Linked DNA regions of Homo sapiens: region 1 is linked to region 2. The links come from fine-mapping of genetic effects on gene expression. A gene starts in region 2. The other region holds a variant in brackets. All regions are shown on one strand. Distances are between the middles of the regions.

Region 1 (5,222 bases), 93 kb after region 2:
AAGTGTGTATTTCCTAGAACGAGAATGTTTTCTCGTGTTACCAGTTACCAAGGCAGCACTTTCATCCGATTTGCGGTCCCCATTCAGCTGTCCTCAGTTATCCCAAGAGTGTCCCTGACAACTGTGTTGTTTCCGAGTCCAGGATCTGGTTTGGGGCGATGAATGGCCTTGAAATGCCATGTCCCTGTAGTCTCCTTCGATCCAGAGCAGTTCCTTAGCCTTTCTGTGTTTTTCTGGACCTTGACTTTTGGTAACCACAGGTCAGTTATCCTTCTGGCTGCCTCTCAGTATCGGCTTCCTGTGATGAGACTGAGGCCTCGCGCTGCTGATTGAGCAGCCCAGAAGTGAGTGTGCGTCTTTCTCAACGCAGCCTCTCAGGTGGGCCCCGGGACCGCTCCTGTGATGAGAAAGTAACTTCAGGAGAGAGGCTGGGGACTGGTCTGGACCTCACGGAACTGTCCCGCAGGGGCTTTAGTGACCACCATGGAGCTCCTGCTCACCGCTTCCTCCACGCGTGTTGTCAGCTCTCGTGGGAGCAAGGGCTTCCCTTGCCCATGTGTCCCTTTATTTTTATATGCACAGCGTGTGGCTCCTGCTCTGTGTGCACCTGTGGGCCGTGTTTTCTTGTCTCTTCACCCGTCTCATGGCTCCTTGTTGTCTCTGGGCTTTGTGGCAGATCCCTCCGAGGGACTGCAGATTCTGTTTGGGTTTTTGTTCTGGTGGTCAGTTACCCTGGCTGGATTCAGACTCCAGCTCTGTCTGCCTCCCTTGTGAGAGCAGCAGCCGACATCTCTGAGCAGCTGTGTCCAGCCTTTCGGCATCTGTTGTGCTCAGTGGAGACTTCCCTGCAGGGTGGAGCTCAGGCCTTCCAGGGATCAGCGTCACTGGGACCCAAGTTTTCAGACTCGGCCTGCTGTGGCCCCTCCTTCCCTAGGTCTCATCCCTGGCTGGGCAGCAGCACAGGTGGCCCAAACTTCATCCTCTGGCTTCCTGAGCCAGCAGCACTGTGCCCTGTGCTGTGCCTGTGCCCTGCTCACGGGGGCAGTGCCTGGAGCAAGGGCTTCGTGGAGGTGAACCCCTTCGGTGAAGGGCTGACTCCCCTCTGTCTGTCTTCATCACTCCCTAGTGCCTGAAGTGTTTGCTTTTGTATTTTGCTCGGAGTGTCTGTACTGTGTGGGAGTTGTGGCAACTCGAGCCCCCACCGTCACCGAAAGCCTCCTCCCCTGCTGATGTGCTTCCTGTCCTGGTTGCGGGCCAGCCCCTTGCCAGCAGTGGTGAGAGGAAGCCAGCGCTTCACCTGCCTGTCTCTTGTCTGTTTCTGCCTGCAGAGTGGAATCGATGGAAGCCCTGCCCATACTGAGCCGTAACCCAAGCAGGAGCACAGACCGAGACTGGGAGACCGCGTCGGCGGCATCTTCCCTGGCCTCAGTGGCCGAGTACACAGGTGACGGCGTTCGCCCTCCTTAGAGGTCATCGTGGGCATGGCCATACGCCTTTGCGTGGCTCTTTCAATATCTGTTCTCTATTTTGGTCTAAAAAGTATTTTTCTAACAAAGATGTTTGATGTAGTGAAAGAGAGCTAATTTGAGCTCTTTGGTGCTGAAATGGGCATGTGGTTTAGTAGAAGCTCTTAGGCCTGCCTTGCCCTCCTGGTCATCTGCCCTGCTGTCTGCTGTGCAGGGGGCAGCGGACCTGGGGGCAGCAGAGCCCGGGAGTGGTGGAAGTGCTTGGCTCTCACCAGCTGCCCTTGGAGCAGGCGTGGGCTCAGGGCACAGTGAACTGGAGGTGCTGCTGTGGCTGAGGTGTATGTCCCGGGGCCTTTGAACTTTAGACTTTTTACAAGTTATTTACCTGGTTTTGTCTTTTTTTTATAGTTAAGACACTGAATTTAGAAAGGGGATAAATTATTGATTACTTTGTCTTTAGTTGTCTAAAAATTTATAACTTAAAATTCTTTTGAATAAATTTAAGTGGTTTTTACTTCCCATTTTTAAATAATCATAAATATCTGTAATTCAGCCTACCCATTGCTTGCTTCTAAGACATTGCTGGTTTTCTTTTTTGTGTGTGTTCGTGCCTTAAAATAATAATTTTACCAACCCTGG[C/T]CTCGTTTCTTAGGTCCCAAGCTCTTTAAGGAGCCCAGTAGTAAATCAAACAAGCCGATTATTCACAATGCCATATCCCATTGCTGCCTGGCTGGAAAAGTGAACGAACCCCACAAGAATTCCATATTGGAGGCAAGTATCATGTTTCAACCTCAGTTTTTATGTGGAATAAAAAGTGTTTATAAATTAAGGGTTCTTTTTAAAAGAAAACACCCCTAATCTTTGATGCATGAGAGTTACTAGGGAGAATGCAGATTTCAAGGAAGAGGCCGTTCCAGGCAGGTGGGAGTGAGGAGTGCCAAGGTCCAGGGGCTGCAGTGAGCCTGTGCTGGAGGAACACCCAGGAGGACGGGGCAGGGTTCAGAGGCTACATCCTCATGTGGTGCCTCTGGGCTGAGGAAAGACATAGTTCTACTCAGTGAGATAGTGGATGCAGGTGTGGGCAGAGGAGAGCCAGGAACCCACCTGCCCTTCCCAGTAGATCAGAGCAGTCAGCAGGGAAGCCAGGGAGGCAGCCTGGAGGTGAATGAGGAACAGGGGCCAGGGCTGGAGCGGTGGGTTGGGGAGGACCGAGGACGGAGGACGGAGTGGTGGGTTGGGGAAGATGGAGTGGGGAGGGAGGGAAGAGGCGCGCACCCGCTGAGCGTGTGGACTCCGGAGCACCCAGTGTGCATGCCCAGGGAGGGGCTTGGAAGCAGGAATCTGAGGGTCCTGCACGGGGTCTAGGCTGGCCCCTGAGGGGCAGGACTGGGATTCCAGGGGAGAGGAGGCAGAGCCACTGGACCCTGCCCCAGATTGAGGCTGGTGTGTGGCCTTAAGTTGCTGGCCTTGGGATACAACGGCTTGTGAATGAGTGAATGAAAATTATGCAACAATCTGTCATCCACCAGAAATTCTGCTTTTTAATAATTAAGACTAACCCCTGGTCCTTAGTTGGTTTAGTTGTAAAAATTAAAGTGACATACGGAATTTCTGACCCACTTTAAAACGGATGTGTTCTTTTCTTGATAGTGAAGATCATCTAGACTAAGAATGGCCCCGACCTAGGCAGGTCTCGTGGCACTGGGGACAGAAGAGGCCATGGTCATGCCCTTCCTGCTTAGATTTCCACACGGAGAGGTGGTTGGCCCCCTGTATCAGTGGCCCCCAGGATCACCCTGCATGCGGAGATGCACTGGAAGGACTCGTGGCCCTCAGTGTGGAGTCGACCCAGGGCTTAGATTTATTCCAGCACTGTGGAGGGAGCCACAGCCACTGGGTGAAGAGGGAGAAGACAGAGGCGGGGCTAGGCCTTGTGCAGCTCCCTCTGCTCTCGTTCTTCCAGCAGTGGATCCACAGCAGCCTGTGGGCCATGGAAAGCCCTTTTGAGACTGGATGCCCTGAGCTCTCCTTGGGGGCTGGTCACAAGGCACACTCCCTGCCCAGTGTGCAGCAGTGTGCCTGACGCCTGGGAGGAAACCAGCGTCAGCGTGCAGACCAGCAGTTCAGGCTCAGGAGGCCCTCCTGTCTTGCCAGTGAGTGACTGGGAGCGAGCTCTGCAGATAGCAAGTTCCCAGGTGCCCACCAAGGGCCGCCCAGCAGGCAGGCCTTTCTAGGACAGCAGCCCTCTCAGCTGTGCCACATAAGCTGTGGGCACCACACGCTTCCTTATCGTGCAGGCAGCAATAAGTAAATAAGATGAACCCCACTCCCCACAGTCCCGCTGTCGCTACAAATTAAATGTTTCTTTCTTTTTGGCATCTAATTCTGTTCATATTTAAACACAGTGAGTAGGGTTGAAATCAGTATTATATAGACAGTTTTGGATTCTTTTAAAAAATACGTATTATTTAAAATAATAAACCCCATTATATGCTGATACATTGCATATTTATGAAAAGTAACTTTTCTAAAGCCAAATAAATAGAAGAGTGGCATTGACATAAGAGGGCTGGCATCTCAGCCGCTCGGGCCCTCCGTCCATTACAACCACACAGCCCAGGGCCTTGGGAAGGTTCTGCCGCACACTTGGGAGAGGCGATGAGGCCTTAGCCTTTCGAGGTCGAGGGCTTGACCCTGAGATTCCTGGGAAGGCCTCAGGATGCCTGGGCCGCATGTGGAGAACTGTGAGGGCAGACCCAGGTGCACTCCCATTCCCAGGCGTGTGGAGGGTTTGTTTTTAAAAGTTACCAAAACACTTGAAGATACGTTTTAAACTTTAAAATACAATCAACAAACGCGGCGACAGGCATCAGCAGTTTGTCATACTTCAGATTCTTCTTTTTTTTTTTTTTGAGATGGAGTCTCACTCTGTCGCCCAGACTGGAGTACAGTGGTGCAATCTCAGCTCACTGCAACCTCCACCCCTCCAGACTCAAGCGATTCTCTGAGTAGCTCGGACTACAGGCATGTGCCACCACGCCTGGCTAATTTTTGTATCCTTAGTAGAGATGGGGTTTCACCATATTGGCCAGGCTGGTCTTGAACTCCTGACCTCAAGTGATTCGCCCACCTCAGCTTCCCAAAGTGTTGGGATTACAGGCGTGAGCCACAGCGCCCGGCCCAAACAGCTTTATGAGATATCATTCACATACCGTAAAATTCACCCTTTTAAGTTATACCATTCAGTGGTTTTTAGTACATTAATAGAGTAGCACAACCATCACCACCGCCTAATTTCAGAGCATTTTCATCCTCATAAAAAGAAACTCCACGCCCGTGAACAGTCACCCCCCTAAGTCTTCCCGCGCCCAAGCTCTTGGCGGTCGCCAGTCTGTCTCCATGGATTTGCCTGTTCTGGGCATTTACATAACTGGCATCATAATTATATGGCCTTTTGGGTCAGGCTTCTTTCACTTAGCGTGATGCTCTGAGGTTTCTCAGTGTAGTGTGTACCGGACCTCCATTCCTTTTTGTAGCTGGGTAATGCTCCATTGCATGCTCCGACCCCATGCTGTTCATCTCGTCATCTGCTGATGCACACTTGGGTTGATTCTTCTTCAAACATTTTTTATTGATAGGGAACAGATGTGCATGCTTTTGGGGGTACATGTGATATTTTCGTTTCTACTTTTTGCCTGTGAAGGGATAGTGCTGTTATTTATATGCAGTGTTTTGTATGGATGCGTGTTTTCATTT
Region 2 (5,222 bases):
TATGATGAATATGGATAAAAAAAATCACTCAACAAAATTGTATTAAACTGAATCCAGGAAGACAGATACTCCATGACCAACTGGAATTTATCTGAACGCAGGGGATAAGTGTCTTTTCAATATCTGAAAGTCAATTAATGTAACACACCACATTACTAGAACAAGGAAAAAAACCCATGATCATCATCTCAATGGATGTGGAAAAATCATTTAACCAAATCTGACACGTTTTCATGATAAACACACTCAACAAACTAGAAATAGAAGATACTTCCTCGGCTGGGCGTGGTAGCTCACGCCTATAATCCCAGCATTTTGGGAGGCCCAGGGGGGTGGATTACTGGAGGTCAGGAGTTCAAGACCAGCCTGGCCAACATGGTAAAACCCCATCTCTACTAAAAATACAAAACTAGCTGGGCGTGGCGGCCTGTGCCTGCAATCCCAGCTACTCAGGAGGCTGAGGCAGGAAAATCGCTTGAACCTGGGAGGCAGAGGTTGCAGTGAGCCAAGATCCAGCCACTGTACTCCAGCCTGGGTGACAGAGTGAGACACTATCTCAAACAAACAAAAAATAGGTTTTATCAGGTTGAGGAAGTACCCTTTTTTTTAATGATTTTTAGACAGTTTCCCTTTTTTAGCTGGGATTACAGGCACCGGCCACCAACCTCAGCTAACTTTTTGTATTTTTAGTAGAGATGGGATTTCTCCATGTTGGCCAGGCTGGTCTCAAACTCTGGACCCCACGTGATCCGCCCGCCTCGACCTCCCAAAGGGTTGGGATTACAGGCGTGAGCCACTGTGCCCAGCCTGATAAAACCTATTTTTTAAGCACCCACAGCTATCATCATACCCAAAGGTGAAAGACTGGATGCCTCCTCCCTGAAATCAGGAGCAAGACAAGGATGTCCACTCTTGCTGCTTCTAGTCAATATTGTACTGGAGCTTCTAGATAGGGCAGCTAGGCAAGGAGAAGAAATAAAAGGCATCCAGATTAGAAAGGAAGAGATAAACTGATCTCTATTCACAAATGACACGCTTTTGTATAAAATCCCAAGGAATCCACTAAAACACTAGAACAACTAATAAATGCCACTAAAAGACAAGAAGAACTAATAAATGGGTTTAGCAAGGTTGCAGGATAAAAGATCAGTACACAAAAAGCCCTTAGAGTCACACTTGACCTTTCCGGGTCACACTCCACATCCCATATAACAGTAGATGGCCTCCTGCCTCCTCCTCAGCCCTTCCTAGTCTGTTCTTCACCCAGGAGTCAGAATGACCCTTTTAAAGGGTTAGTCATATCCTTCCGTGTGCTCAGTCTTCCGAAGGCTGCCCATTTCCTGCAGAGAAGGGGCCACAGTTCTGACTGTGCAGGACCTGTCTGCATCCCTCCATGTCCCCACCTCCCATTTCCTACCAGTCCTTCCAGCTCCTGCGTTCTCGACTTAGTGGCCTCTACTGTGTTTCTTACACTCCAGGCTCTCGTGTCTCAGAGGCTCTGTCTGCCGTGCTCCTTGCTCAAGACAGTACTTCTGCAGATATCCTTACCCTCGACGCCCACGTCCCGCCGGTCTTTGCTCAAATAAGTGCCCTCCTCCTATGGCTTTCCTTGACCGCTCTGCCCTGTCCACCTCGTGTTCTTTTCAGACGGCTGACTCAAGAAAAAATAGACAATCTCAACAGACCTATAACAAGTGAAGAGACTCAATTAGTAACCAAAAAACTATGAATCAAATAAGTCATCAAAAAAGCCCAGGCCCAAATGGCTTCAAGGTTGAATTGAAGCCTGCACGTGGGTTGGTATGTGAATGACGGACTGCCTGGGTCCTCTGGGCACCTGGCATTTCATACATGTTCCGCCTCTGGCACGGGGTGTCTCGACCAGGTACAGACAGGCTGGGAGCCCCGCGCCGGGCGCCCGCTCCCTGGAAGCTCGACCTCTCCCTGCCGTCAAGGCGCCGGTGGGCGGCACGTGGGCCGGCTCTCCCGGGGGCAGTTCTCTATTTCGCTGGTGAGGTTCTCAGACCAAATCCTCGGAATGCAAACTCTCACGGCGTTCCCGTAATTCTCAGCCCAGCGCGGGCCCCGACGCAGGCTCCAGGGGAACGAAGTCAGCGTCCCTTCCGGGGGATGCGCCGGCGGGGCCGCACCTGTTTCTGCCTCAGGGGTCCAAACGCCCACCTTCCCTGCACCGGGACGGGGGTCTGGAGACTGGCACGTCCACCTGGTGCCCGTCTGCTGGGCTGTCGCCTGCCGAGGTCGCCGCCGGCCACACCCACGAGGTCCCCAGGGCGCCGGCGGCGAGACCTCGGCCGGCCAGGGGGCCGGGCTGTGGCTGAGGTGGGACGAGCCAGGGCCGGGGAGGAGACACGGCGCTAAAAGAGGGCAGCTGCGGGCTCGGCAGGATCCCCGCCGCCGACCCACTCCACCCACCCCGCGCCGCCCACTCCCCGCTGCCTACGCCGCGCTCCACACCGCGGGCCTTAGAGCCTGAGGAAAGCAACGGGGCAGGCGCGGACCAGGGCGGGTCCTACTGCGCCTGCGGAAGCGGGCGGGGAGGGGCGGGTCGACGCTCACTGCGCCTGCGGAAAGGGGCGGGGCAGGCACAGGCCTGCGGGTGCCACCTACTGCGCCTGCGGAAAGGGGCGGGGCGGGCGCGGGCTGGCGGGCGGTGCCTACTGCGCCTGCGGAAAGGGGCGGGGCAGGCGCGAGAAGGGAGCGGAGCTGGGGGCGGGGTCGAGGGCGGGGTGGCGGGCGGTGCCTACTGCGCCTGTGCGAGGCCCCGGCGGTGAGCGCGCTCCCGCTCCTTGGCCACCGCCTCAGCCGCTGTCGCCGCCGCCGCCGCTCACCCGGGACCGCGCACGCGCTGCCACCGCCCCCGGCCCGCTCCCGCCCCCGCGCCCGCCCCCGCCCCCGGCCCGCGCCCTCCTGCCGCCGCCTCTTTGGGCCGCGGGCTCGGCACCTCCTCCGCTCGGGCTCAGCGCCCGCAGCATGCAGCAGCCGCGGGGGCGGCGACGGCGGCGGCTGTGAGGTGAGGCGGGGGCCGCGCTCGGGCGCCCCTCCCGGCTGGCCGGCTGCGGGGCCGAGTGGTGGCTCGGGGCGCACCGGGCCCGGCGCGGCGAGGGGCGGCGGCGCCTTTGTTGCGGCCGGGCCGCCGCCTCAGCCCTTTGTCTGCAGATGGTGGACGCGAGCGGCCGCGCCGCCGCCGAGGGCTGGAGGAAGATGGAGGCCCCGCCGGACGGCGCCGCCGACCTCGTGCCCCTGGACCGCTACGACGCGGCGCGCGCCAAGATCGCCGCCAACCTGCAGTGGATCTGCGCCAAGGCCTACGGCCGAGGTGGGCCGGGTGAGGGGCGCGGGGCGGGGGCCAGGGGCGCGGGCCGGGGCCGGGGGACGCGGCCGGGGTCCGGCCGGGTCGGGGTCCGCGCGCCGCGCCTTTGTGCCGCGTCCGCACAGGGTCGGGGCTGGGCCGGCCGCCTCCGAGGTCCTGGCGGCGCCCGGGCAACGCGGAGCGTGGGGACGCGGTCACCTGGCGAGTGGGCGTCCCTGCGGCGGAGGGCGGCGTGGGTCGGGGCTTCCGCTCCTATTTCGGGAGTGCCCCCAGCCTCCCGTTGGCGGCGGCGGCGGCGGGAAGGAGCTGCCCGGTTCTGGGCGCAGGGAGGGACCATGGGGACGCGGGGCCGCCGTCTGAGGCGCCGCTTCCCGGCGCGCCGGGCATCGTCCAGTGCTGGACCTGTGATTCCGAGCCTTGCACTTGTTATGAATTTTGATGCTTACAAGCTGTCAGCTGTTGAATTCCCCAACTAGAAATTGCGTATTCCGCGCATTGTGCTTAATCATAATGATCCCCTTTGGTTAATTCCTGTTTGGAAGAACTAGGTAACCTTGTTACTCAGTCCAGTTTGTTAGGCCCTAATGTGCTTAGTGGATTAAGACGCTTCTGTTTCGTGCCCTGGGAACAGGACAGACCTAGTGATTCTCGTCAGTGGCTGACTTCTTTATTAATTTCAGGTGCTTTGTTTCAGGTACAATTAAAGGTTAATATTTCTGCAATCCTCTTTTCATTTGAAGCATTCTTAAAATATTTGCCTTTATTCTGGTGAAAAATTACCCTTTTTAGAGTAAGACTAAAGGAGACAGCCCTTCCAGAGAAGAGTTCAGTTGACCAGTTTGGAAAACGCTGAGTAGGCGTTGCCCTGTTTGACAGTGGCCTGTGCCCCAGCTAGACTCGAGTTAGTCATAAGGACAAACGCGTTTTGTAAGTTTTAGGGATTAAATAACTCGCCTTATTTCAAACTGGTTTTTGTACTGTGTAAGTAGTAATTGGGAAAGAGTTTTTCCTTTGACAGTTTTCAGTTTTACAGTTCTTGTTTACTGGCTCAGTGGAACCTTAGTTTCTGTGTTGTAATGAGGAAGAAACACTGCTACATCCAAGACTTCACATGAGTTTTTGAGAACGGAATTGGTAAGATGTAGGTATGAAACTTGAGTCAGGTGCAAAGAACAGCCCGAGAGCGGACGCCTGGGTATCTTGCAGTCACTGCCGGCTGCGTGGGCTCACCTGCCTCACACCTTGTGTTAGTCACTGTTTTGCTTTTCTTTGTATTTTGCCGCATGTGCTTACACCACGAACTAGTTTTTACACCTTTGCCAATGATGTCTCTTTCTGAGACTGGCTTTTGTTATTCCCTTATCCCACGTTACGTTCTTAGGTTCTTCTTGACTTCATCTTCACTTTTCCACATTTCCGCTGCTGTGGAGTGTCTCACTGAGGACTGTTCACCGCAGCTGCTCGTGGGCGCTGGCTGGGCTCCCGTAGGTGCTGTGGAGCCCAGTGCATTCTTGGGCATGGCTCCTGGGATCCGAGCACAAAGTTTTACTCCTGCATGTTTTTTAAGATTTTATATGTGGAGAGGGCTGAGGGCTCAGGCAGCGGATGTTAGACAAATTGCTATAAAAAGAACTTTCACGATCTGCTTTCCAATTTCTTTAGCAAGGTGCATGCATTTTTTATTTCATTGCATTTAGCTTTGGCATTCAGCATGGGATTTGTCAGCCATCCAGAAATAAGTACGCGTGTCTCTGTGTTAGTATTGGGTTCGTCTAGTTTCACTTCCGGTACCAGGTCACTCTTTAATCCTTGTTGACTCATCGGATGATGAATTCACAATCTGATACTAACATGGGCTTTTGAGTTCTGGAATTATTAAAAGGTGGGCATT

Evidence for each region. PIP is the estimated chance that this variant, and not a neighbour inherited with it, causes the effect.
Region 1: its variant is the best candidate, but not a certain one, in a credible set for the expression of CAMSAP1 in whole blood (INTERVAL, PIP 0.89).

Annotation. Positions count from the first base shown.
Region 1 is chr9:135,812,112-135,817,333 of GRCh38, reverse strand. CAMSAP1 (calmodulin regulated spectrin associated protein 1) reads left to right here. Exons shown (of 17, transcript NM_015447.4): 15 at 1,329-1,444; 16 at 2,119-2,237. Among named protein-coding and RNA genes, the nearest start is that of CAMSAP1, 93 kb to the left of the region's middle. The variant C/T (reference allele first, on the strand shown) is at 2,106.
Region 2 is chr9:135,905,115-135,910,336 of GRCh38, reverse strand. It overlaps CAMSAP1 (calmodulin regulated spectrin associated protein 1), which reads left to right and starts at 2,791. Exons shown (of 17, transcript NM_015447.4): 1 at 2,791-3,337. The coding sequence starts at 3,178. CAMSAP1-DT (CAMSAP1 divergent transcript) reads right to left here and starts at 2,504. Exons shown (of 2, transcript XR_007061860.1): 1 at 1,418-2,504. RefSeq lists silencers at 2,223-2,902, 2,943-3,052, 3,133-3,202, 3,603-3,652 and an enhancer at 4,299-5,222.